Homo sapiens: one gene and its partners. The protein of the gene in region 1 purifies or fractionates together with the protein of each later gene. This does not show direct contact. Each region holds a gene or a part of one and is shown in the gene's direction. Other genes may lie near its edges. The genes, in order: AKAP17A, NOS1AP, RNPS1, PNN, ANKRD17, MYH4 and CKM.

Region 1 (3,500 bases):
TTTTTTTATTTTTTTTATTTTTATTTTTTTTTCGAGGCAGAGTCTCGATCTGTTTCCTGGACTGGAGTGCAGTGGCGCAATCTTTGCTCAGTGCATCCTCCGCCTCCTGGGTTCGAGCGATTCTTCTGCCTCAGCCTCCCGAGTAGCTGGGACTACAGGCGCGTGCCATCACACCTGGCTAATTTTTGTATTTTTAGTAGAAACAGGGTTTTGCCGTATTGGCCAGGCTGGTCTCGAACTCCTGACCTCATGAACTGCCTGCCTCGCCCTCCCAAAGTGCTGGGATTACAGGCGTGAGCCACTGCGCTCAGCCTAGCCTCGTGTTTTGACCGTGTTGGCTTCACAGTGACAAATGAGCCAGCCTCCTGGAGGGGGTTTTGTGGCCTTAAGATGTGCCCTGTGGGTGTGGGCAGGCGGCCTGCTCAGTGACTGTGGCCACAGGGAATGGTGGAGCCGGGTAGCGGAAGGGGAGCTGTGTCTCGCAGCGGTGGCGTGTCACTTGTGTTCAGTAAGTGGCGAGGGCTAGTTGGTGTTCCTCGCTGAGTCGTAACTCCGTGGGATGAGCTAAGTCTTGAGCCACTGATGGTGACTTGAAGGGATTGGTTTGGCTTCTGGGCTCCACTGTCTGGGTCTGCACCGGACATGAGTGGTGAGCGGTGAGCGGTGAGCGGGCGCTCAGGCTCTGAGGCCACTCGGCCCTACGGCCCAGGAGAGGGCGCCTGGCCGTGTGTCTGGGGGGTTTTGGGGGAAGGCCATCTGACACTGTTTTTGCTTTTAAAGGTTTCTTTTGATTCGACCAAACACCTGAGTGATGCCTCAATTAAGAAGCGGCAGCTGGAGAGGCAGAAGCTTCAGGAACTGGAGCAGCAAAGAGAAGAACAAAAGCGCAGAGAGAAGGAAGCGGAGGAGAGGCAGCGAGCGGAGGAAAGGTACCTTCTGCGGGAGCGGGCCCTCGGCGCTGGTGTCCGGCACCTGGGAGTGTGCGCAGACCCGTGTGCGTGTGTCTGCATGTATTCCTGTGCGTGTGTGTGTGCATGCATGCTTGTGAGCTTGTGTGTGTACCTGTGTGCATGGACGCACGTGTGCCTGTGAACCGGTGTGTGTACTTTGTATGTCCCTATGTGCGCCCGAGTGTGTGCCTGAGCATCTGTGTGCACGTGTGCCTGTGTGTGCGTGCATGTGTGTGAGCTCGTGTGTGTACCTGTGTGTGTATGTGCACGTGTGCCCACATGTGTGTGCTTCTGTATCGGCACATAGCACACATGTGCCTGTGTGCATGCGTGTGTGCCTGTGAACCCGTGTGTGTACTTGTGTGTGCACGTATGGGTGTGTGTGCAGGCCTGTGGGTGCTCAGCTGTGCACGTGAGGACCTGCGTGAGTGGCTGTTTGAGACGCAGCAGAATATGAATGTTTCTCTTTTTCTTGTCACACGTCGTGGTCTGACACGATCTCTGCCGGCTCCCAGGACCGCGCCTTGCCCGAAGAGCCACCTCTTCTCCCTCCACATGCTGTTCACACCTCCCGCTGAAACAAGCAGAATGCCTTGGCTGTTTGCAAGTTTGCATTTAGGTTGAGGCTACATTTACAAAATGAAGTAGAGGGTTGATGGTGATGGCCAGATTTAAAAAAAAAAAAAAAAACAAAAAACCAATGATAGGACAAAAACCCGGTTTCACATAAGAGGCCTTTAAAGCAATTGCCTGGGTCGTTCACTGTGGTTGGGGTACCAGAGACAACCTCAGGTCACTCTTTGTAGCCCCTTTTATCTTCTTAGCATTGCAGGAGGGAACCAACAACTTTCTGTGAATCCCCTGAGGCGGAATCCTCCTCCTCCTCCTCCTCCTCCATCCCTCCCACCCTCCTAGTGAGGTGGATTCCTCCTCCTCCTCCTCCATCCCTCCCACCCTCCTAGTGAGGCGGAATCCTCCTCTTCCTCCTCCATCCCTCCCACCCTCCTAGTGAGGTGGATTCCTCCTCCTCCTCCTCCATCCCTCCCACCCTCCTAGTGAGGTGGATTCCTCCTCCTCCTCCTCCATCCCTCCCACCCTCCTAGTGAGGTGGATTCCTCCTCCTCCTCCTCCATCCCTCCCACCCTCCTAGTGAGGTGGATTCCTCCTCCTCCTTCTCCGTCCCTCCCACCCTCCTAGTGAGGTGGATTCCTCCTCCTCCTCCTCTTCCTCCTCCATCCCTCCCGCTGTGCCCTCCTAGTGAGGCGGATTCGTCCTCTTCCTCCTCCATCCCTCCTGCCGTGTCCTCCTAGTGAGGTGGATTCCTCCTCCTCCTTCTCCGTCCCTCCCACCCTCCTAGTGAGGCGGAATCCTCCTCCTCCTACTCCTCTTCGTCCTCCGTCCCTCCCGCTGTGTCCTCTGACGACTTTGGTGCGTCCTGCACGTCTGTTGCGCTTCATGTCGCCGATATCAAGTCTGGGACGTGTTGGACTTGGCTGGGGGGCTCCTGGACAGCCTCTGGTGGGACCGAGTTGGTCCGTTTTGTTTCCATTTCTCACTGCTTTATGTGACGCTGGTGCCAGCGTGTTGATGTGTGTGGCTGGTGATGTTTGCACGAGAGTCCCGGCACTGAACTCCTGGGAGCAGGTCCATCCTGCCCGTGGTGTTCTTTACGTAGCCCCCGTTGCCTCCCCAGGGGAGAGTCGGGTTGTCAGCCTCTGAATCTGAACCCCGAGGGCTCCTTAGGTGAGGCAGGTGCAGTGTGTAAGCGAGTGGCCGTGAATGTGCTGGGGGGGCCCATGTCAGCCGTCAGGATTCCCAGGACCTAAGGCAGGCAGCACAGAGAGGCAGACGCCCTGGGAGGGAGGGACATGCTGCTGCGTCGCCATCCTGGGAGGCGGTCCCTGGGAGGGGCGGTTCGGATGTGGGGTTGAGTCCGGGTCCCCTGTGTCAGCCACTGTCAGGCCGAGCAGGACAGCTGGGGTGGGAGACAGTCCTGGGGCGTTACAGGGACTCTTCCAGGCTGCAGACACAGCCCAGGCCTGGCTGAATGTGCCTGTCCACATTCTGGAAGTGTGGAGTGGGACTCAGAGCCTCGGACCTCTCGGTGTCGCAGGAGTGTCCCCGCAACATTTCAGAAAGCAGCTTGCGGGTGCGGAGAAGAAGCTGCATCCTTGATCTTTCCCTGAGGAGAGATGGACGTTGGAGTAGTGGAGTGTGTCTCTGCAGGGAAGGGACCCCGTCTGCCTGGCCAGACCACAGAGGGATTGGGGGAAGCGGGGCCGGGCCATGAGGTTCTCGAGAGCAGGATGGGGTGTCCAGAGCCCCGGGGAGGGGCAGGCCTGTTGTCTGGGGGAGCTGGCCAGGAGGGCTCCACACGCAGGGCCGTACTTGTCCCCGCTGTCCCCCACTGTCCTTCCTCAGAGGCTGAGCATGAGGGGAGGCCCAGGGCAGCCTCCTGCATTTCTTTCTGGTGGGTGGAGATGAGGCATGTTTGCTTGTTCAGCCCTCACGTGTAACTTTGAGCTTGATGAGAGCTGTCCTCTGAAAGCT
Region 2 (3,500 bases), on another chromosome or scaffold:
CTTGTGTATGTCTGAAGAAGTCCCCACAGCAGAACTGCCAGAAACAAAATGTCTTTCCCTGCCATGGAATTCTATGAATCGTAGAAGCCATCTTGGTAAAAATGTCCACAGGAGAGGGAGACAGAAGGAAAGGAGGGAAGGACACAGGAACTTCTTTCATCTAAGAGGATCTCTCCAGATCATTATATATTTTAGGATCCAAACTTCTTTGCCGATGGTTCTCACCAGAGGCAGTGGAGGGCAGGAGGTAGCCCCCTCACATGGCCCCTTCCTCCAGGACCCAGCTCCACGCTTCTCCCAACAAGGGAGAAGGAACATCTCAGACCCTGGAGGAGGGAGCCCTAAGGACACAGCAGAGTAGAGGATTGAAGCTGGGTCCTTCCTGTTATCATGGTAGGGTGGATGGAAGCTACGTTTTCCTAAAATAGATTCTTCTAAGTCTAGAACCTCAAGGAACTCAGTGACAGGGTATCATTGGAAGTGGTGGGCAAGAGATGGAGCAGTATCAGCCATCAGTCTCCCATCGGGGTCAGTTACCGAGGTGTCCCCCTAGTCCCCCTACGATTTTCTGACTGTGTGGTATCAGCCCAGGCAGCTACACCATTTCCTTTCTGGGCCTCTACTCCCATTTCCATTGAAGATATAGTGCTGTCAGCTTATGGGTTGTAAGTGTGCCAATTTGCTCCTCCTGAGTGCATGCCAAAGAGAGGGAGGCCCCTCAAGATGGCTCCTGCCACATGTCATGTCCTGTCTTCTCCTTCTCCTCCAGGTTTCGCACCCCCAGGAGCCCATGCTGACAGCCTCACCCAGGATGCTGCTCCCTTCTTCTTCCTCGAAGCCTCCAGGCCTGGGCACAGAGACACCGCTGTCCACTCACCACCAGATGCAGCTCCTCCAGCAGCTCCTCCAGCAGCAGCAGCAGCAGACACAAGTGGCTGTGGCCCAGGTTCTCCTCAGCCTCCTCCCTACTTCGCAGGCTCCACTCTCATGGGCTTGATGCACCTTCCCTAGCGAGGGGCTCAGGGCAGGTTTAAAATCTAGGGAGTCATAAGGAATCGCTCATGCTATTGGATCATTGCTTGTTGGGGAGTGGGGGCAGCGGGAGGGGGATAGATGGGGGATGCAGTTGAAATGGAGAGGCACATTTTGGTTTCCCATGTATCCCCTGCTCTGAGCTGGGCTTGGCTGGCTTGGCTGAATGTTGTTAATGACTTGAACTGACCAAGGGAAAAGATGCACACAATTCCACCCTTCCTTTCCTGCCTTACTTTCCTGATATTTGGGGTGGAAAGTGATGCCTTTGGAGTCAGAACAGTTGTGGCTTTATGATACCACTCTTAAAACAGCTTAAAGTATGAATTTGTGCCAAACACTGTTGTAAAAAGATTACTACCCTAGCATCCCAGTCTCCGTGTCTATAACAGGTTTCCCAGCCTTCATTACGATCTACTTATTCCAGGCAGTATTTGATTGGAATTCATTATTGTAGGATTTAACTTACAGGAATTTAGGTGTATTATTTGAGCCATAATGAAAAGAATTGGCTTAGATCTCAGAATCAAGGTGGTGTTTGTACCCCAAAAAACTTGTTCGGGGGCTGCTACATTATAGGGGAGGGTGAGCTGATTTCCCTTGCTGCTTTCAGCAGGGATTCTTCTTGTTTGCTTTCTATAGAGGGCGCTGTAGTCCACATCTTTCTTGGGAAGTCTGAGCTCCCTCTCTACCACCAGCACTCAGGGAATGGTGAAGACATTCATTCATACCCAAGGCTGAATCCTGAGGCGAGAGGCAGGGTCAGGGCCTGATGAGTGCATGAAGATCTTAGGAGACGGGGCAGTTGGGGCTTGGAAGAATTGGTAAAGGATCTGGAAAGGCAGCCTGCATCAACATTCTAAATCTGCTTGACCAGACTGTTGACCACTTAGGTTTTCTGCATTCTAGAATGGCGGGGAGCAGACTTCTCCAGGGAGCACTTATTGCTCTCTGTTATGTCTTCTGCTTACTCTTGTCCTGGCTCTTGAGTGGACTGAATCATCCAGCCAGAGATATCCTTTCCACCTTTCCACCTTGAGGAGGCATCCGGCGTCCTGGCCATAACAGGATCTGCTATGACTCAGGGTTTGAAGAAGACCTTCTTGTAACACGGTCTCTCCTGACCTGGGCCTGAGATGCAAGGCTCATGGATGACTTTTGCAGCCAGGTTTCAGGAGAGTAGAGTCAATGGGACACAGCTCTCAAGTTATCGGAGTCTTTTTAAAAAGTCTTACCATGAAACAAAAGGATATCTCGTGATGCTAGGAGGATTTGCAGGTGTTCCCAAAACAGCAACAGAGAGGGGGAATGTCATTAATGGCTTCTTATATTTGGAGAAAAAAAATCATTTCTCTTTGTCAAATAAAAGAATCCATCTCCTGTAGTTAATGATGGCACAGCAGTCTGAGAATCCCCTCCCTAGTGTGACAGTTGACAGGAGCACAAAGACTAAGCACTGCAGCACGGGTCCATTCTCAGACTCATTTCATTTCCACAAGTTTCCCATTGAATACAGAACATAATACTTTTATTTTGCAGCGTATCAATTGCCAAGTAATTATTATTTATCTAAGAGTGGGCTTGATGCATATTCATGATATGATTTTATCAGGGAGGCATTTGAATTCGAAGTCACTGCTAAGTACTAGAGAGAAACTATTTGCAAATGTGTAATCCACACAATAGTGTTGTGGCGGTGGAAGGAAGCATTCAATCTCCAAAGCAACAAGACATGTAACTTATCACAGGTCTACTACAGTCAGGATGAAACCTTAAGAGTAGTTTTCTGGTATAGAATCAATTGTCAGTCTCCATGGGAAATCCTGCCCTGGCCCTGTTTTAATTGTGTCTCTCCTAGAAGACAATGAATCTAGGGGAAGGAAAGGGTGTGGTATTAGAGATTTGCTTCATGAGCCTCTCTCGGTTCCACATGTCCACAGGCTGAGCACCCTTAGCCTCTCACTCACTTGGAATCTGTTGAATATAGTTGCCCTGCTTGACTCTCAATACAAGCAGTGTGGTGATCAAAAGGCCACCATACTGCATCTGTGTCCCACATTTGTGAGATGACTTTAGGGAGAGTCTTAGGCTTCCAAAATCATCAGATAGGACGTTGGGGTCATCTGATAGGTTCTTGAACATACTCCTGTACCTCTGTCTGCCATGCCCATCTGTCTCTGACTACCTTCTTTCTGTTCGCATCTTGCTTTTGCTGTCCAGGACCACAGCAGGGATATTGTACATTTCAGCTGGCTTTCAGCTCTCCTGTCCTGCAGACGGATTCGGTCCTAAACTGACCTTCAGTTAGAGGTTTCTCCGCACACTGTTCATTCTTCCACTTTCTTTGTAGTGTTTAATTCAAGGGCTTTTTTACTAGTGTCTATATCCTTGGGTAAAAACAATTACGTAAGATGTAGCTGGATTAATAGGTGGGTCTTCTTGGCATCTTTCACACATTTGAAATAGAC
Region 3 (3,500 bases), on another chromosome or scaffold:
TTAATATTTAACTACTCAGACAGTACTAAAACACTTGTTACAGAGGCCTGCGTTAGTGAGACCTGGCCTGCCACAATCCCCACTGTCAATTTGCTCATGCTTTTTATCATGCATGTATATGTATTTATTAATCACGAGAATCGTAGGGAGATGAAGCATTGTAATCTTTCTGGCTGCTTCCTGCTGAGAGAGGGTTGTCGTCATGGGGCACCAAACACAGCGCTGGAGTGGAAGAGGTGGATTTGTTCCCGGTAGCACTTTCTGTTCTGGGGGCTTCGAGGCAGCACCTGCTGAAACGTAATAGGATGCAACAGCCACACATAGAAGTAGGTTGCTGCTGTTTTCTTCCCAAGTTTAGTCTTCAGTTTACAGGGCTTGAGGAAAGCATAGCTTAGATTTCAGTGATTTCCAATTAGGAAAAAGGAAACAAAAAAGGAAAAAATTGAGAACAGTATTTGGGTGTACTATAGTTTTTGAAACAATTTTTTTTTTTTTTTGAGACGGAGTCTGGCTCTGTCGCCCAGGCTGGAGTGCAGTAGCACCACCTCGGCCCACTGCAAGCTCTGCCTACCAGGTTCATGCCATTCTCCTCCCTCAGCCTCCCGAGTAGCTGGGACTACAGGCGCCCACCACCATGCCTGGCTAATTTTTTGTATTTTTAGTAGAGACGGGGTTTCACCGTGTTAGCCAGGATGGTCTGGATCTCCTGACCTTGTGATCCGCCTGCCTCGGCCTCCCAAAGTGCTGGGATTACAGGCATGAGCCACCATGCCCAGCCAACAATTTTTTTTGGGGGCTTCCCATTTTTATTAAAAGACAAATAGGACTGGTATTTATTAAAAGACAAGACTGGTTTGCTTTATTATATTTGGCTTAATTATTTGTATACAGTGGAGCAAGAACCATAATTTTTTCTATAGGCCTTTTATCTGAGATAATACCTTTTTAAACCCAAGCCCAGCCATGGATATGTACAATTAAATACCTGTGAGTTGGGTGAAATCCTCTCCTCTTGAGGTTCCAAGATAACTTGAGGTTTTTGTCCATTAGAAAGTGGCATGTTTTACTTCCCTCAGATTAGAAACCCTGTACAGGGACTGTGTACACAAAATAGGAGGCCGGTTTTTTATTTGTGTTCTGTTACAAAAGAAAACGGATTTTTATTGCACTTACGCAAATAACTATATTGCTATAAATTAAGAATACGTACAAATAGACTGGGCAACATGGATCACCTGAGGTCAGGAGTTTGAGACCAGCGTGGCCAACATCGTGAAACCCCGTCTCTAATAAAAATACAAAAATTAGCCGGGCATGATGGCACACACCTGTGGTCCCAGCTACTTGGGAGGCTGAGGCAGGAGAATTGCTTGAACCTAGGAGGCAGGGATTGCAGCGAGCCAAGATTACGCCACTGCACTCCAGCCTGGGCAACAAAGTGAGACTAGGTCTCAAAAAAAAAAAAAAAAAAAAAAAAAAGAATACACACACACACACAAATAGTTTCCAAATTCTGAAGAAATTAGGTAGAGAGAAACAAATATGCTCCAAGTTTTGTTCCTAGGCGTATACTTAATTGTTGATAGCTTAAAACTTTTTTTGACTTTGAAAAATAAAAGGATTAGGAATATTTTAAGCAAAAAGTTAAAAAGATTACTTCAGTGTTCTATTAGTTCAGTTTATGCAGTTAATTTCTGCCCTGCTTGATATTAATGAACGCTTTACCTTTCTTTTTTTTGAGACGGAGTCTCGCTCTGTCGCCCAGGCTGGAGTGCAGTGGCGCAATCTCGGCTCACTGCAAGCTCCACCTCCTGGGTTCACACCATTCTCCTGCCTCAGCCTCTCGAGTAGCTGGGACTGCAGGCACCGGCCACCACACCCAGCTAATTTTTTGTATTTTTAGTAGAGATGGAGTTTCACCCTGTTAGCCAGGATGGTCTGGATCTCCTGACCTCGTGATCCGCCCGCCTCAGCCTCCCAAAGTGCTGGGATTACAGGCGTGAGCCACTGCACCCGGCCTTATTTTAGCTCTTTAAGAGTCCTGAATGTTTTTTCTTTATTCTGATGTCACAATCTGCAAAGTTATTAGAAATCTGTATTTAAGAGCAACTGTTAGAACTCTATAGCTGATTATAAAACCACCTTCTAAAAAGGATTAAAACAAGACAACAATTGTTTATGGATGACAAAAAGGTTTTAGGGCAGCCATAGTTAAAGACACAATTGACGAAATTTGTTAGCTCTGTGGCACACAATAATTTAACATAACAATTATAATTATTACTGATCATGTACACTAGGATATATTGCAATTGTAGGAGTTTTACGTGATTTTGGGACACATATCAATAACATTTATACAAATACAGCCCAAACAAAGCCAAACCCAATTTTATATTTGGTAGTGCTTCCTGTATAATTTTTGGTACCAAATAAGCCAAATTTCACTTTTACATCAGTGTGCTGTTAATGTTAAAACCCAATCCTTTTTTTTTTTTTTTTTGAGACTTTTTTCTGCTCTTGTTGCCCAGGCTGGAGTACAATGGTGCAATCTTGGCTCACTGCAACCTCCGCCTCCTGGGTTCAAGCAGTTCTCCTGCCTTAGCCTCCCGAGTAGCTGGGATTACAGGCAACCTCCACTATATCCAGCTAATTTTTGTATTTTTAGTAGAGACATGGTTTCACCATGTTGGCCAGGTTGGTCTTGAACTCCAGACCTCAGGTGATCCACCCGCCTTGGCCTCCCAAAGCAGCTGGGATTACAGGTGTGAGCCACTGCGCCCGGCCTAAACGTAATTTTAATGCTTAATTTACAGAAAAACTAGATGATACCCCTTTAACTTTAGCCAGCATGTTTACATACAGAATTTTCTTTACAATCAACCTCCCACACCTTTTTTTGAGACAGAGTCTTGCTCTGTCGCCCACGCTGGTGTGCAGTGGCATGATTTTGGCTCACTGCAACTTCCACCTCCTGGGTTCAAGCAATTCTTCTGCTTCAGCCTCCCCAAGTAGCTGGGATTACAGGCTCCCGCCACCACACCTGGCTAATTTTTGTGTTTTTAGTAGAGATGGGGTTTCACCATGTTGGCCAGGCCTGTCTCAAACTGCTGACTTCAGGTGATCCTCTCGCCTCAACCTCCCAAAGTGCTGGGATTACAGGCGTGAGCCAACGCGCCCGGCATGGATTCCAGTTCTTAGTGGGTGTGTGATTACCGAAAAGATGTTTTAGGAACACCTTTTTTTTGTAGCTCCAGTTTAAAGGAACACTATTCTTGGGGGAAAAAAATTAGCAAATATGCGTAGATTAACATTTTAGAGAGTTTCCAATCTGTTAAAAGCTTAAGGATCAAATTCAGTTTTCTTACATAGAATACATTTGGCTTTTTATATGGGAATATTTCCTTTAATCATTTCTGAGAACCAGAAGTTTCCCAGTATTTCAGCATTTTTAGTTTATTTTGCTGAGTGACTGGATTTACTGAATCTATACAGTTTAT
Region 4 (2,733 bases), on another chromosome or scaffold:
TGCAGTGGCTCATGCCTGTAATCCCAGCACTTTGGGAGGCTGAGGCAGGTGGATCACCTGAGGTCAGAAGTTTTTCGAGACCAGCCTGGCCAACATGGTGAAACCCTGTCTTTACTAAAAATACAAAATTAGCCGCCTGTGGTGGCATGCGCCTGTAATCCCCAGCTATTTGGGAGGCGGAGGCAAGAGAATCACTTGAACCCTGGAGGTGAGGTTGCAATGAGCCAAGATCACACTATTGTACCCCAGCCTGGGCAACAGGCGCAAAACTCCATCTCAAAAAAAGAAAAAATGTGAAGCATATGCAGATACCTTTTTTTTTTCTTTTTCTTTTTTTTTGTAGAGATGGGGTTTTATCATGTTGCCCAGGCTGGTCTGAGCTCAAAGCAATCCACCCACCTCAGCCTCCCAGAGTGCTGGGATGACAGGTGTGAGCCACTGTGCCCGGCCTGCAGATACCTTTACATAGTGAAAAAAAAAAAAAAAAAAAAAATTTTTTTTGAGATGGAGTTTGGCTCTTCTTGCTCAGGCTGGAGTGTAGTGGCGTGATCTCAGCTCACTGCAACCTCCGCCTCTGGGGTTCAAGTGATTTCTCCTGCTTCGGCCTCCCAAGTAGCTGGGATTATAGGTGCGTGCAACCACGCCCTGTTAATTTTTTTGTGTTTTTAGTAGAGATGGTGGTGTTGGCTTCTGACTTCAGATGATCTACCTGCCTCTAATGTTTCACGTAATTAGTATGTGTAATAACTTTTTATCATAATTGAACTGAAATCATATATACCTTTTGTTGTAACTATTTCAACACGTAAGTATTAAAGCAGGCTACTTAACTTTTAGCAAAAGCGGCGCCAGGAAATTGAACAAAAACTTGAAGTTCAGGCAGAAGAAGAGAGAAAGCAGGTTGAAAATGAAAGGAGAGAACTGTTTGAAGAGAGGCGTGCTAAACAGACAGAACTGCGGCTTTTGGAACAGAAAGTTGAGCTTGCGCAGCTGGTGAGTGGTAATTTGGAATTCTAAGATTGGTAATCCTTTGTGTTTACAAAAGCACTGACCCTTTACCTTTTCTTTAGCAAGAAGAATGGAATGAACATAATGCCAAAATAATTAAATATATAAGAACTAAGACAAAGCCCCATTTGTTTTATATTCCTGGAAGAATGTGTCCAGCTACCCAAAAACTAATAGAAGAGTCACAGAGAAAAATGAACGGTAAGTATGCGAAGAGGTCCATTGAATTGTTCATAGTGGGTAAGGTAATATGTTCATATGCACACGTTTGTTTTCTAAAATAATTATGATTCAGTGATTGGTTTGCTGTGTTTGCTTTTTTTTTTTAAATAAGATAATAAGATATTCTAGGCCGGGCGTGGTGGCTCACGCCTGTAATCCCAGCACTTTGGGAGGCTGAGGCAGGCAGATCATGAGGTCAGGAGATCGAGACCATCCCGGCTAACATGGTGAAACCCCGTCTCTAGTCTCTACTAAAAATACAAAAAAAATTAGCTGGGCATGGTGGTGGGCACCTGTAATTCCAGCTACTTGGCAGGCTGAGGCAGGAGAATCACTTGAACCTGGGAGGCAGAAGTTGCAGTGAGCCGAGATTACGCCACTGAACTCCAGCCTGGGCAACAGAGCTAGACTCCATCTCAAAAAAAAAAAAAAAGATACATTCTGAGATGCTGGTGAGTTTGTAGTATAGGAATATTTGTATCATGATGGAGTTTAATGTGAAAGTTATAGACAGTGCTTATGCATCTGTATTCCTTAAGCATTTGTGTAAAATTACTTTTTTTTGCATGCTATTATTGTTCTGATAAAATGCTAATAAGACAAATGTGAAAACCAACTCAGTTTCTAGATGGAAAACACATGGAAGGATAGACACTGCTAAGATGATGATTTATCTCTTTGGGATCAGAAAAATTAATATATATGATTTTATGCCAAAACTGGTTCTGTTTTACAGAAGTTTTATTTTTCATCAGACATAAAGATTGATCTGTTTTCTTCATCAGTTAGAAAATGTGTAGTTCTGTCTGCCACAATTTCTAGTATGTAGATTTCCCATGGATCTTTGCTTTTATAATTTTATGTCAGTTTGTGGTTACTTAATTGCCATAATCTTTTGTCATAACTTTACAAAAACAAATTCAGATGAAGCTTAATGACAATTTGTGACCAGTTATAAAATTATGGCTTTGAATTTTCTTAATCGGTAAATTTTACACATGTAAATTTTTATTCTTTAGCTTTATTTGAAGGTAGACGCATCGAATTTGCAGAACAAATAAATAAAATGGAGGCTAGGCCTAGAAGACAATCAATGAAGGAAAAAGAGCATCAGGTGGTGCGTAATGAAGAACAGAAGGCGGAACAAGAAGAGGGTAAGGTGGCTCAGCGAGAGGAAGAGTTGGAGGAGACAGGTAATCAGCACAATGATGTAGAAATAGAGGAAGCAGGAGAGGAAGAGGAAAAGGAAATAGCGATTGTTCATAGTGATGCAGAGAAAGAACAGGAGGAGGAAGAACAAAAACAGGAAATGGAGGTTAAGATGGAGGAGGAAACTGAGGTAAGGGAAAGTGAGAAGCAGCAGGATAGTCAGCCTGAAGAAGTTATGGATGTGCTAGAGATGGTTGAGAATGTCAAACATGTAATTGCTGACCAGGAGGTAATGGAAACTAATCGAGTTGAAAGTGTAGAACCTTCAGAAAATGAAGCTAGCAAAGAATTGGA
Region 5 (3,500 bases), on another chromosome or scaffold:
TGAATATAGTAGGCATATGTATAATCTAATGTTAAAATAAGTTATATAATGGGTAATAATTTTTAGATTTCTTAGATAAGTTACACATTCCCAGGATGAGGTGAACTTTCAAATATCAATTTTAAGGCTATTGATTATATTGGGAAAAATGAACAATGACTTGGATGTTAATGTGTGTGTTTTCCTTTTTTAAGGGTATGCCTTTTTCTGTGTATGGGAATGCAATGATTCCTCCAGTAGCACCTATCCCTGATGGTGCTGGAGGACCCATATTTAATGGCCCTCATGCTGCAGACCCTTCTTGGAACTCACTGATAAAGATGGTTTCCAGCTCCACGGAAAATAATGGCCCTCAAACGGTGAGGCTGATCATTCAGTGAATAAACAGTTGTTTTGTGTTTAAGAAATGCAAAGACAAATAGGATTCAGGTAACTCATGATAGCAAGAGAGTTTGGTGAATATGGGCAGTTGAGGAAATCTAATATAGCTGCAATATAGCAGAGGGCTGTGGGCAGTGGTACCAAAGGCAGGTTTGGGGCTAAAATTATGAAAGGTATTGTATATTCTACTGGGTAGCAGATAATAAATGAAAGATTTTAAGTTGCAAAGTGACTGTCATATGATTTTATACATTAAAGTTTACTAGTGGTGTGAAAAGACCATCTAAAGGTTATTTATTAAAGGTACTATAAATAACTCTGAGAATTCACATAAATGGTTGTATATTTTAGTTTAGTGTATGTTTAATATCTTTGATTTATTTTTCTTCCACAACCGTGAATCTATAAATGCTCAGGTAATGATTTTTTTTTTAAAGGTTGTAAATCAGATTCTGTTTGAGGGATAAGAGGTAGGAAAATAATAGAAAAAAGGTTTTTATCATTTTTTTCCATTAGTTCCTAGTATATTGCAAATTGAAGAGTACCTCCTTAGTTTTTTAAAAGTTTTATTTTAATAAAATATATGCTAGATATATATTTTGTAAAATGCATGCTCTATATTCATAGGTGTGGACTGGACCCTGGGCACCTCACATGAACAGTGTGCATATGAACCAGCTTGGCTGATGAGGATCAGCTTGTTAGCCTGCAGATTCCTTTTCATTTGGAGGAAATCACAAGTGGCCGAAAAAAAAAATTATGCTCCCAAATCATTCTACTGATGTGCTTGACTGAAGTGTGTAGGCTTTTTGCAGAAGATCTTACTAACTGACCTATTTTCTGTGAACATTTGTGACTGCCCATTCCCCATCATCATCCGTTTTACCTTAGTTAGCATTTTTCTTATCATTTTTCTTTTTTTCTTTCCCTCTTCCCCTTTGGACATAACTTTCTGTTGAAGCTGTTCTTTGGCTGGTTGGTTTTAGTACTGTAAACTGCTTCTGAGCAAACACGGAAATTTAGCAAAATTATGTAAACTTGATCCTGAAGTTTTAGAATGGCAAATAAATGTACAATTGTTTACATAACAGAAAAGGCTAAGCAGAAAGTAAATTTCAATATGTCAGTATAGAGGCTCTACTTTATGTAGACTTAAATTAATGTGAGATATGTACCTTCATATTCAGAAATCTGGATGTTTCCTTCATACATTAAACTATTAATAAGCATAACTTTTCTACTGGTGTAATTTAAGTATAAAGTAAAATAATGGGCATTATCATTGGATGTTTCCCCACATTGGCTTTTAAAATACCCATCTTGCTTTCTTTTTGGTTTATTTGTAGCAAGGCACATATAGAAGAAGAAATTTCTGGCTTTTCCATGTTGTTTTATTACCTTTTCTCACTTTTAAAACTAATACAGACTTATCTCCTCACTCCTTTTTCTCTCCTTACCTTTACCACTAATACCAGTAAAATTATCTTTCTGATAGTGAAAAGGTTCTGTCAAGATTTTCACTGTAATGGCTGCTACAGAGATGGACCATCTTCATCATCACCAGTGGTTTCTTCTAATTATAAAATGTTTAAACTTTCTGAGAATTTAAAAAGCCACCACTGTTCCCAGTCAGCATATACAAGCTCTTAATATTCTGTTTATTAAATAATTCAATGTACTATTTTATATTGGATGATATTGATTCTTAACATTGGCTTTTCAGTCATCAACAGTCAACATAAAAATTTCAATTTTCAGTAATTTAGTGGAAAATATCTTATTTCTTTTTTCAATTTTAAAGGCTTCCTGCTTTTTTACCCTTGTATATTATCAGTGAAAAGGATCAACAGTTAATTTGAGCCAAGTAATAAAAGAAATTCTGCATTTGTCACGAAGACAATTTATGGTAGACAGATAAATACACAGATTACAGTGTAAAGTCTCCATTTAACCTGTTTATAAAAGATACAAGGCCACACTAAACTACTCAGTGGGATTTATATATTCCATCCACTTGAAACAATAAACAGTAATGTATCCAAGAAGATTATGTGTCCTACCCTGTCTCATGGAAAAATTAATTATATGGTTGAAATGTAAAAGAAAGTAAGCATAAAAATCGAGTAATGTATATATCAATTTGTCTTCTTTTTTTTTAATTAGACATAAAATTTCACACTGGTAAAACATAAAAACTAACTAAAATTCATATAAATCACCTAGAGTTGATGATATTAACATGGTTCCTTGGTTGTCAAGTAAATCAAATGATTTCTTCCATCTGAGTAAAGAGTAAAGCCTGAGTAAAGAGTAAAAAGATGACTTCTCAAACATATCCAGAAATTTGTAAACAGTACACTCATATCTTTTAGTTTAAGAAGTGGTCTTAAAATATATAAATTTGTTTTTCCACCTATGTTTAATATGCCCAAATTTAAAGGGAGAGCTAAAAGACAGCCTACAAATAAATATAGCTATGAAATAAAATTATAGCACTTTACTAAAAAAGGGATGTAATAATGTTATTTAACGAAGTATTTTATATATGACTTGCCACTATTCTATACATAAAATTTTTTTTCTTAATTCTTTCCTGTGTTAACTAGGGTTATTTTCTATTTAAGGTAATCCTGCTGGAGAACAGATGCTATCCAATATTTATTACAACACATGAGTTGTGTTGTTTCACAATACTGAATTTCTTAGGTGAGGTATTTTATTTAAAAAGGAGGGGGAAAACTCCTATATTTTCTTGACTTCAAACCTGTGGGGCCAGGGGATATAGATTGAAATGCTCCGTATTTAGTCTTGGGGATCAGGCTTGTTTAGTACAATACCATGGTTTTAGAAGTCTGTACTAGGAACATTTTTAAAATACATTTTTTATATTTCAGATGTAATGCAGTGCACTTTTATTTGAACAATAAAAAAACCCATAACTTTTTGAGACCATGAAGGTCTTTTATTTTTTAATTTTGAAAATATGTGGTATGTGTATATGCAGACTACATCATTGTTTTAAGAAATGATTTAACTCTTGGACATTACACTTGGGTTAGTTCACACCTTAAATCCCCAAGTAGTTAATATCTCAATTATTGTATAATCAGTTTATACCA
Region 6 (2,770 bases), on another chromosome or scaffold:
ATTAAATTTAGAAGTTTGATTAAAGAGCTATATATAGAAAGGAGAAAAGGCATAAACTTAGAATTATCTTCTAATTTGGTTTTTATTCTAAACATTTCTTATGATCAATAATTTTTGCCTGTGTACACTAGGTAAAATGACAATGTGAGTTGTTATAAGTAAATGTGCTTCTCTTCTCTTTCATTAATTTGAAACAGAACACCAGCCTGATCAACACCAAGAAGAAGCTGGAAACAGACATTTCCCAAATCCAGGGAGAGATGGAGGACATCGTCCAGGAAGCCCGCAATGCAGAGGAGAAGGCCAAGAAGGCCATCACTGATGTAAGCAAGATGAGCATTTGTCTTACTGACACATGCATGCTGCCTGCTATCATCAGAATTCATTATTTTCAAAATTTATTTGCTAACTAGGCTGCCATGATGGCTGAGGAGCTGAAGAAGGAACAGGACACCAGCGCCCACCTGGAGCGGATGAAGAAGAACATGGAGCAGACCGTGAAGGATCTGCAGCTCCGTCTGGATGAGGCTGAGCAGCTGGCGCTGAAGGGTGGGAAGAAGCAGATCCAGAAACTGGAGGCCAGGGTAGGTCTCCACAACTTCACTCAATTCCTTGTGGCCAGTTACAGCCAAACTGGTAAACGTCTTTGTTCCCTTCCAGGTGAGAGAGCTTGAAAGTGAGGTGGAAAGTGAACAGAAGCACAATGTTGAGGCTGTCAAGGGTCTTCGCAAACATGAGAGAAGAGTGAAGGAACTCACTTACCAGGTGACCAGTGTTTTCATATCTTCCAGGCCTATAGTTTTCAAGAAAATCATGAGTTGTTTTAAAATAATGGCACCATCTACTTGCACCTCTTTCAGACTGAGGAGGACCGCAAGAATATTCTCAGGCTGCAGGACTTGGTGGACAAATTGCAAACCAAAGTCAAAGCTTACAAGAGACAAGCTGAAGAGGCTGTGAGTATCTCCACAGTGGAAATGAAAGGTTCAGATGCACATCCAGGTTTTTTGGGGCCTAAAGTTTATAGAATTTAGGGGGTTTTCTTTAAATTGGGAATACATAATTAGGTATGAACATGAATATTTAGAATGAGAAAAATGAACCATAAATTACTGGAGCCTTATAGATTTGAGTTTATTTCTTCTGAGACCTCTTTAAGCAATTTTCCAGACATGTTAACATACAAATGTTTCTTAGTTGCAATCCACTTCCCTCCCTATCTAGAACATTCTACAACCCCCAGCACTCATATGGACCTGTGCAAATGAGAGTATGAATTCTAAGCTTCATTTAACTTCATGATAAATCCATCTTGGGACTTTTTTTTTCAATTTGGCTGCAGTTATCTTTTTCATTCTGTTAATTCTGAAACCTTCCTTAGGGTTCTTGGCACCAAATGCCACTACTGCACCTATTTTTTAAAGTTTCTTTTTTAGAAACAAGATTGAATTCAGATCCCTGCTACTTTGTTCTTCCAGTTATCACTGCAGCCTCTTCAGTTTGCCAGAAAGAGAGTCAAGTGAGAGAGAGACTTGAGGAGGGTCATAAGCACATTCATTTACATAGGCGAGTTTGTGGGATGCCTTGCTCTCAAATAACTATGTTACTAAATAATAAAGCCTTTTTCTCTTCTTTTTTTTTTTTTCGAGGCAGAGTTTTGCTCTTGTTGCCCAGGCTGGAGTGCAATGGCACAATCTCAGCTCACTGCAATCTCTGCCTCCTGGGTCCAAGAGATTCTCCTGCCTCAGCCTCCTGAGTAGCTGGAATTACAGGCATCCACCACTACGCTGGGCTAATTTTAGTAAAGATGGGGGTTTCACCATGTTGGCCAGGCTGGTCTCGAATTCCTGACCTCAGGTGATCCACCCGCCTCAGTCTCCCAGAGTGCTGGGATTACAGGTGTGAGCCACCATGCCTGGACAACGGAGCCTTTTTCTTTCTCATTCATGAGGCAAATCCTGAAGTAACAAAAGCAATAACAATCAGGAAATGTCCAATTTTCTTGTTATCTCAAATGCATCTCTGTTCTCAGGAGGAACAATCCAATGTCAACCTTGCCAAGTTCCGCAAGCTCCAGCACGAGCTGGAGGAGGCCAAGGAACGGGCTGACATTGCTGAGTCCCAAGTCAACAAGCTGAGAGTGAAGAGTCGGGAGGTTCACACAAAAGTCATAAGTGAAGAGTAATTCATTCTAATGAAAGAAAATGTGACCAAAGAAATGCACGAAATGTGAAGTTCTTTGTCACTGTCCTGTATATCAAGGAAATAAAATCTTTAGATAATTTTGCATCTAAAAATACATTTGTCTCTTAATTATAAGCTCTTTAGTGCTATTAGAACTAATTCCTTTATTCAACATTTGTGGAGTTCCTAATATGTGCAATCAGAGATAATAACAAAAATGAATGTAGGCAGTGAACCCAACTTTAATGGAAGGTAAATGAAATAAGGTGCTCTGAGAAGACATGAAGGTGACAAACGCACTCTCAATTCCATTCAACCAATTTTACTGAGTATCAACTATATGTCTGGTACAGAAATGGACACGAAAGATGTGACAGTTATCCCTGTCTTTGAGAAGTTCAATCCAGTGTGGAAGACGGCAGTTCAAAAAGATATACGCTGTATGTATGTGCAACATACATACTCTGACATGAGTGTGAAAAACAAATGTGGCAATAACATAGAGTGAGCTGCTAACTTTGGAAATCCAGAAAGGCTTCTCAAAGGAGACTATGAGCTGATTCCTAAAAGAGGACCAGACAGTTAT
Region 7 (3,500 bases), on another chromosome or scaffold:
CCTGGGCAACATAGTGACACCCTGTCTCTATTTTTTTTTTTTTTTTGAGACAGAATCTCACTCTGTCACCCAGGTTGGAGTGCAGTGGCTCGATCTCAGCTCACGGAAACCCCTGATCCCCAGGTTCAAGTGATTCTCGTGCCTCAGCCTCCTGAGTAGCTGGGATTACAGGCGCGCACCACCACGCCCAGCTAATTTTTGTATTTTTAGTAGAAATGGGGTTTCACCATGTTGGCCAAGCTGGTTTCGAACTCCTGACCTCAGGTGATTGGCTCACCTCGGCTTCCCAAAGTGTTGGGATTACAGGTGTGAGCCACCGCGCCCAGCCCCTGTCTCTATTTATAAAAAATTTATTTTAAGTTAGCCGAACATGGTGGCATATACCTACCTGTTAGTCCCAGCTACTTGGGAGGCTGAGGCAGGGGAATTGCTTGAGCCCAGGAGTTTGAGGTTGCAGTGAGCTATGATGGCACCACTGCACTCCAGCCTGGGCGACAGAGAGAGACCCTGTCTCGAAGAAAAAAAAGGAAAAGAAATATACGAAGATGGGGAGAGAGAGGTATAAAGAAAAACAGAGATAGGAGAGGGGAGAGAGACAGAGAAGGGAGAGACAGAGCCCAGGTATGGGTGGCGGGGAGAGGCTCCACACACCCAATCAGTGAGGATGCAGAAGGCAAAGGAAGCAACAGGGAGACTGAGGGGAGCATCTGGGGGAGACCTGGGCTTGCTGGAGAGGGCGGAGGATCTGCCTGGTCCTGATCTCCCACCCGCTCTCCAGGGTGGAGACGACCTGGACCCTAACTACGTGCTCAGCAGCCGCGTCCGCACTGGCCGCAGCATCAAGGGCTACACGTTGCCCCCACACTGCTCCCGTGGCGAGCGCCGGGCGGTGGAGAAGCTCTCTGTGGAAGGTGAGCGCCCCTACCCCGTCCACTGCTGGGGTCACCCAGCCCTGGCTCTGTTCCTCCATGGGCAGGTCCTCGGGTCTCTTTGGGCCCCCGCTTTTCAAAGTAGGGGAAGAGCTTGGTAAATCGTGGGGGCTTGGGGAATGGCGCGGGCTGTCAGCATTACCTGCTGTGTTGGAGATTCAGGGATGCTGTCCAGACCCGACGGCCCCTGAGAAGACCTACGCAGACACCTGGCTGCCCCCAGCGTCCTGCCATCCGTTCATCCAGCACACATTTCCAGGGGTTCTTGCCCTGTGTGGGGAGATAGGGGTCCCTCACTGTTCTCACAGAGTGTTCAGCTGGTGGGGAGACAAGAGGAAATACAGAAACCCACAGATGAACAAGATAATTCAAAAGTGCCATGAAGCCAAGACATGGGTGTGGTGGAGAATGACCGAGGGGAGCCACCTCAGATAGGAGGAGTTGAGGCCGGGCACAGTGGCTCCCACAGCAGTGCGGGAGGCCTAGGAGGGAGGGTCGCTTGAGCCCAGGAGTTCAAGACCAGACTGGGCAATACAGCAAGACCCTGTCTCTACAAAAAAGACAAAAATGAGCCAGGAGTGGTGGCACACACCTGTCATCCCAGCTACTCAGGAGACTGAGGTGGGAGGATCACTTGAGCCCGGGAGGTTGAGGCTGCAGTGAATCGTGATTGTGCCACTGCACTCCAGCCAGGGTGACAGAGTGAGAACCTGCCTCAAAAACAAATAAAAAGAGGCCAGGCACAGTGGCTCACACCGTAATCCCAGCATTTTGGGAAGCTGAGGCAGGTGGATCATTTGAGGTCAGGAGTTTGAGACCAGCCTGGCCAACATGGTAAAACCCCATCTCTACTAAAAATACAAAAATCAGCTGGGTCTGGTGGCACACACCTGTAATCCCAGCGACTTGGGAGACTGAGGCAGGAGAATCGCTTGAACCTGGGAGGCAGAGGTTGCAGTGAGCTGAGATCACGCCACTGCACTCCAGCCTGGGGGACAGAGTGTGACTCCATCTCAAAAAAAAAAGTTATGTTTATCCTATACTGTAGTCTGTTAAGTGCACAATAGCATTATGTCTAGAAAAAAAAAAGTACATACCTTAATTTTAAAATCCTGCTAAAAATGTTGTGATCATTTGAGGACTCAGCAAGTTGGAACCTTTCTGTTGTGTAGGGCCTTGCCTTGATGTTGATGGGCTGCTGACTGATCAGGGCGGTTGTCGTTCAAGGTTGAGATGGCTGCGGCAATTCCTTCCTTCCTTCCTTCCTTCCTTTCCTTTCTTTTCTTCCTCCCTTCCTTCCCTTCCTTCCCTCCCTCCCTTCCTTCCCTTCCCTTCCCTTTTCTTCTCCGTCCTTCCTTCCTTCCTTCTTTCCTCCCTCCCTTCCTCCCTTCCTTCCTTCCTTCTCTTTCTCTCTCTCTTTTCAAGACAGGGTCTTGTTCTGTTGCCCAGCTGGAATGCAGTGGTGCAATCATGACTTACCATAACCTCCAACTCCTGGGCTTAAGTGATCCTCCCATGTTGGTCTCCCAAAGTGCTGGCATTACAGGTGTGAGCCACAGTGCCTGGCCAGCAGTAATAGTTTGAAAAGAATCTCTTTTTTGAGATGGAGCCACACTCTTGTCGCCCAGGCTGGAGTGCAGTGGTGCAATCTTGGCTTACTGTTACCTCCACCTCGTGGTTCAAGCAATTCTCGTGTCTCAGCCACCCAAGTAGCTGAGATCACCGGCATGCGCCACCACGCCTGGCTAATTTTTGTATTTTTAGTAGAATCGGGGTTTCGCCATCTTGGCCAGGCTGGTCTCAAACTCCTGATCTCAGGTGATCTGCCTGCCTCAGCCTCCCAAACCACTAGGATTACAGGCGTGAGCCACCGCACCTGGCCTATGAAGCTTTTTATTTAAAGTGAAAAATGTTGACTCTTCCTTTCACTTGAACACCTCGAGGCCATTGTAAGGTTATGAACTGAATTGGCCTGATTTCAAAATCATGTGTCTCAGGGAATACGGAGGCTCAAGGAGATGGGGAGAGATGAGGGAATGGCTGGTCAGTGGGGCAGTCCGAGCACACACATTTATCCATTAAGTTCACCCTTTTATATGGGCAAGGTCGGTGGCACCCCCCAAAATTAAAACAGTAACATCAGAGATCACTGATCACGGATCGCCATGACAGATATAGTAATAATGAGAAAGTCTGCAGTACTGTGAGAATTACCCACATGTGACACAGAGACACGAAGTGGCACATGCTGTAGGAAAAATGGCTCCAATAGACCTGCTGGACAAAGAGTTGCCACAAACCTCCAATTTGTAAAAAACACAGTATCTGCAAAATGCAATAAAACGAGGTATGTCTGTATATTATATGAATATGTATAAGATATATAAATATTATAGATTTATTGTACATATGCACAAACACAAATTCATTATACACATATTTTATACATGAATATACAAATAAACACACAATTTTTTTTCTTTTTTTTTTTTTTAGACAGAATCTCACTCTGTCACCCAGGCTGGAGTGCAGTGGCAAAATCTCAGCTCACTGCAACCTCCACCTCTTGGG

The links.
Region 2: the proteins of AKAP17A (region 1) and NOS1AP purify together in Homo sapiens (affinity purification with mass spectrometry; 2 studies listed by BioGRID and IntAct, with this or other methods). This does not show direct contact.
Region 3: the proteins of AKAP17A (region 1) and RNPS1 purify together in Homo sapiens (co-immunoprecipitation; 4 studies listed by BioGRID and IntAct, with this or other methods). This does not show direct contact.
Region 4: the proteins of AKAP17A (region 1) and PNN purify together in Homo sapiens (affinity purification with mass spectrometry; 2 studies listed by BioGRID and IntAct, with this or other methods). This does not show direct contact.
Region 5: the proteins of AKAP17A (region 1) and ANKRD17 purify together in Homo sapiens (affinity purification with mass spectrometry; 2 studies listed by BioGRID and IntAct, with this or other methods). This does not show direct contact.
Region 6: the proteins of AKAP17A (region 1) and MYH4 purify together in Homo sapiens (affinity purification with mass spectrometry; 2 studies listed by BioGRID and IntAct, with this or other methods). This does not show direct contact.
Region 7: the proteins of AKAP17A (region 1) and CKM purify together in Homo sapiens (affinity purification with mass spectrometry; 2 studies listed by BioGRID and IntAct, with this or other methods). This does not show direct contact.

What each region holds. Positions count from the first base shown.
Region 1 is NC_000023.11:1,594,604-1,598,103, forward strand, and holds part of AKAP17A (A-kinase anchor protein 17A), read left to right. Parts: intron 1-780; coding exon 781-929; intron 930-3,500. UniProt on the Homo sapiens protein: Splice factor regulating alternative splice site selection for certain mRNA precursors. Mediates regulation of pre-mRNA splicing in a PKA-dependent manner.
Region 2 is NC_000001.11:162,356,191-162,359,690, forward strand, and holds part of NOS1AP (carboxyl-terminal PDZ ligand of neuronal nitric oxide synthase protein), read left to right. Parts: intron 1-769; coding exon 770-946; intron 947-3,500. UniProt on the Homo sapiens protein: Adapter protein involved in neuronal nitric-oxide (NO) synthesis regulation via its association with nNOS/NOS1. The complex formed with NOS1 and synapsins is necessary for specific NO and synapsin functions at a presynaptic level.
Region 3 is NC_000016.10:2,258,127-2,261,626, reverse strand, and holds part of RNPS1 (RNA-binding protein with serine-rich domain 1), read left to right. Parts: intron 1-3,500. UniProt on the Homo sapiens protein: Part of pre- and post-splicing multiprotein mRNP complexes. Auxiliary component of the splicing-dependent multiprotein exon junction complex (EJC) deposited at splice junction on mRNAs.
Region 4 is NC_000014.9:39,178,254-39,180,986, forward strand, and holds part of PNN (pinin), read left to right. Parts: intron 1-837; coding exon 838-993; intron 994-1,070; coding exon 1,071-1,209; intron 1,210-2,249; coding exon 2,250-2,733. UniProt on the Homo sapiens protein: Transcriptional activator binding to the E-box 1 core sequence of the E-cadherin promoter gene; the core-binding sequence is 5'CAGGTG-3'. Capable of reversing CTBP1-mediated transcription repression.
Region 5 is NC_000004.12:73,073,799-73,077,298, reverse strand, and holds part of ANKRD17 (ankyrin repeat domain-containing protein 17), read left to right. Parts: intron 1-194; coding exon 195-359; intron 360-1,008; coding exon 1,009-1,068; 3' UTR 1,069-3,500.
Region 6 is NC_000017.11:10,442,790-10,445,559, reverse strand, and holds the end of MYH4 (myosin-4), read left to right. Parts: intron 1-197; coding exon 198-323; intron 324-413; coding exon 414-584; intron 585-660; coding exon 661-765; intron 766-860; coding exon 861-956; intron 957-2,032; coding exon 2,033-2,185; 3' UTR 2,186-2,270; downstream 2,271-2,770. UniProt on the Homo sapiens protein: Muscle contraction.
Region 7 is NC_000019.10:45,312,876-45,316,375, reverse strand, and holds part of CKM (creatine kinase M-type), read left to right. Parts: intron 1-778; coding exon 779-911; intron 912-3,500. UniProt on the Homo sapiens protein: Reversibly catalyzes the transfer of phosphate between ATP and various phosphogens (e.g. creatine phosphate).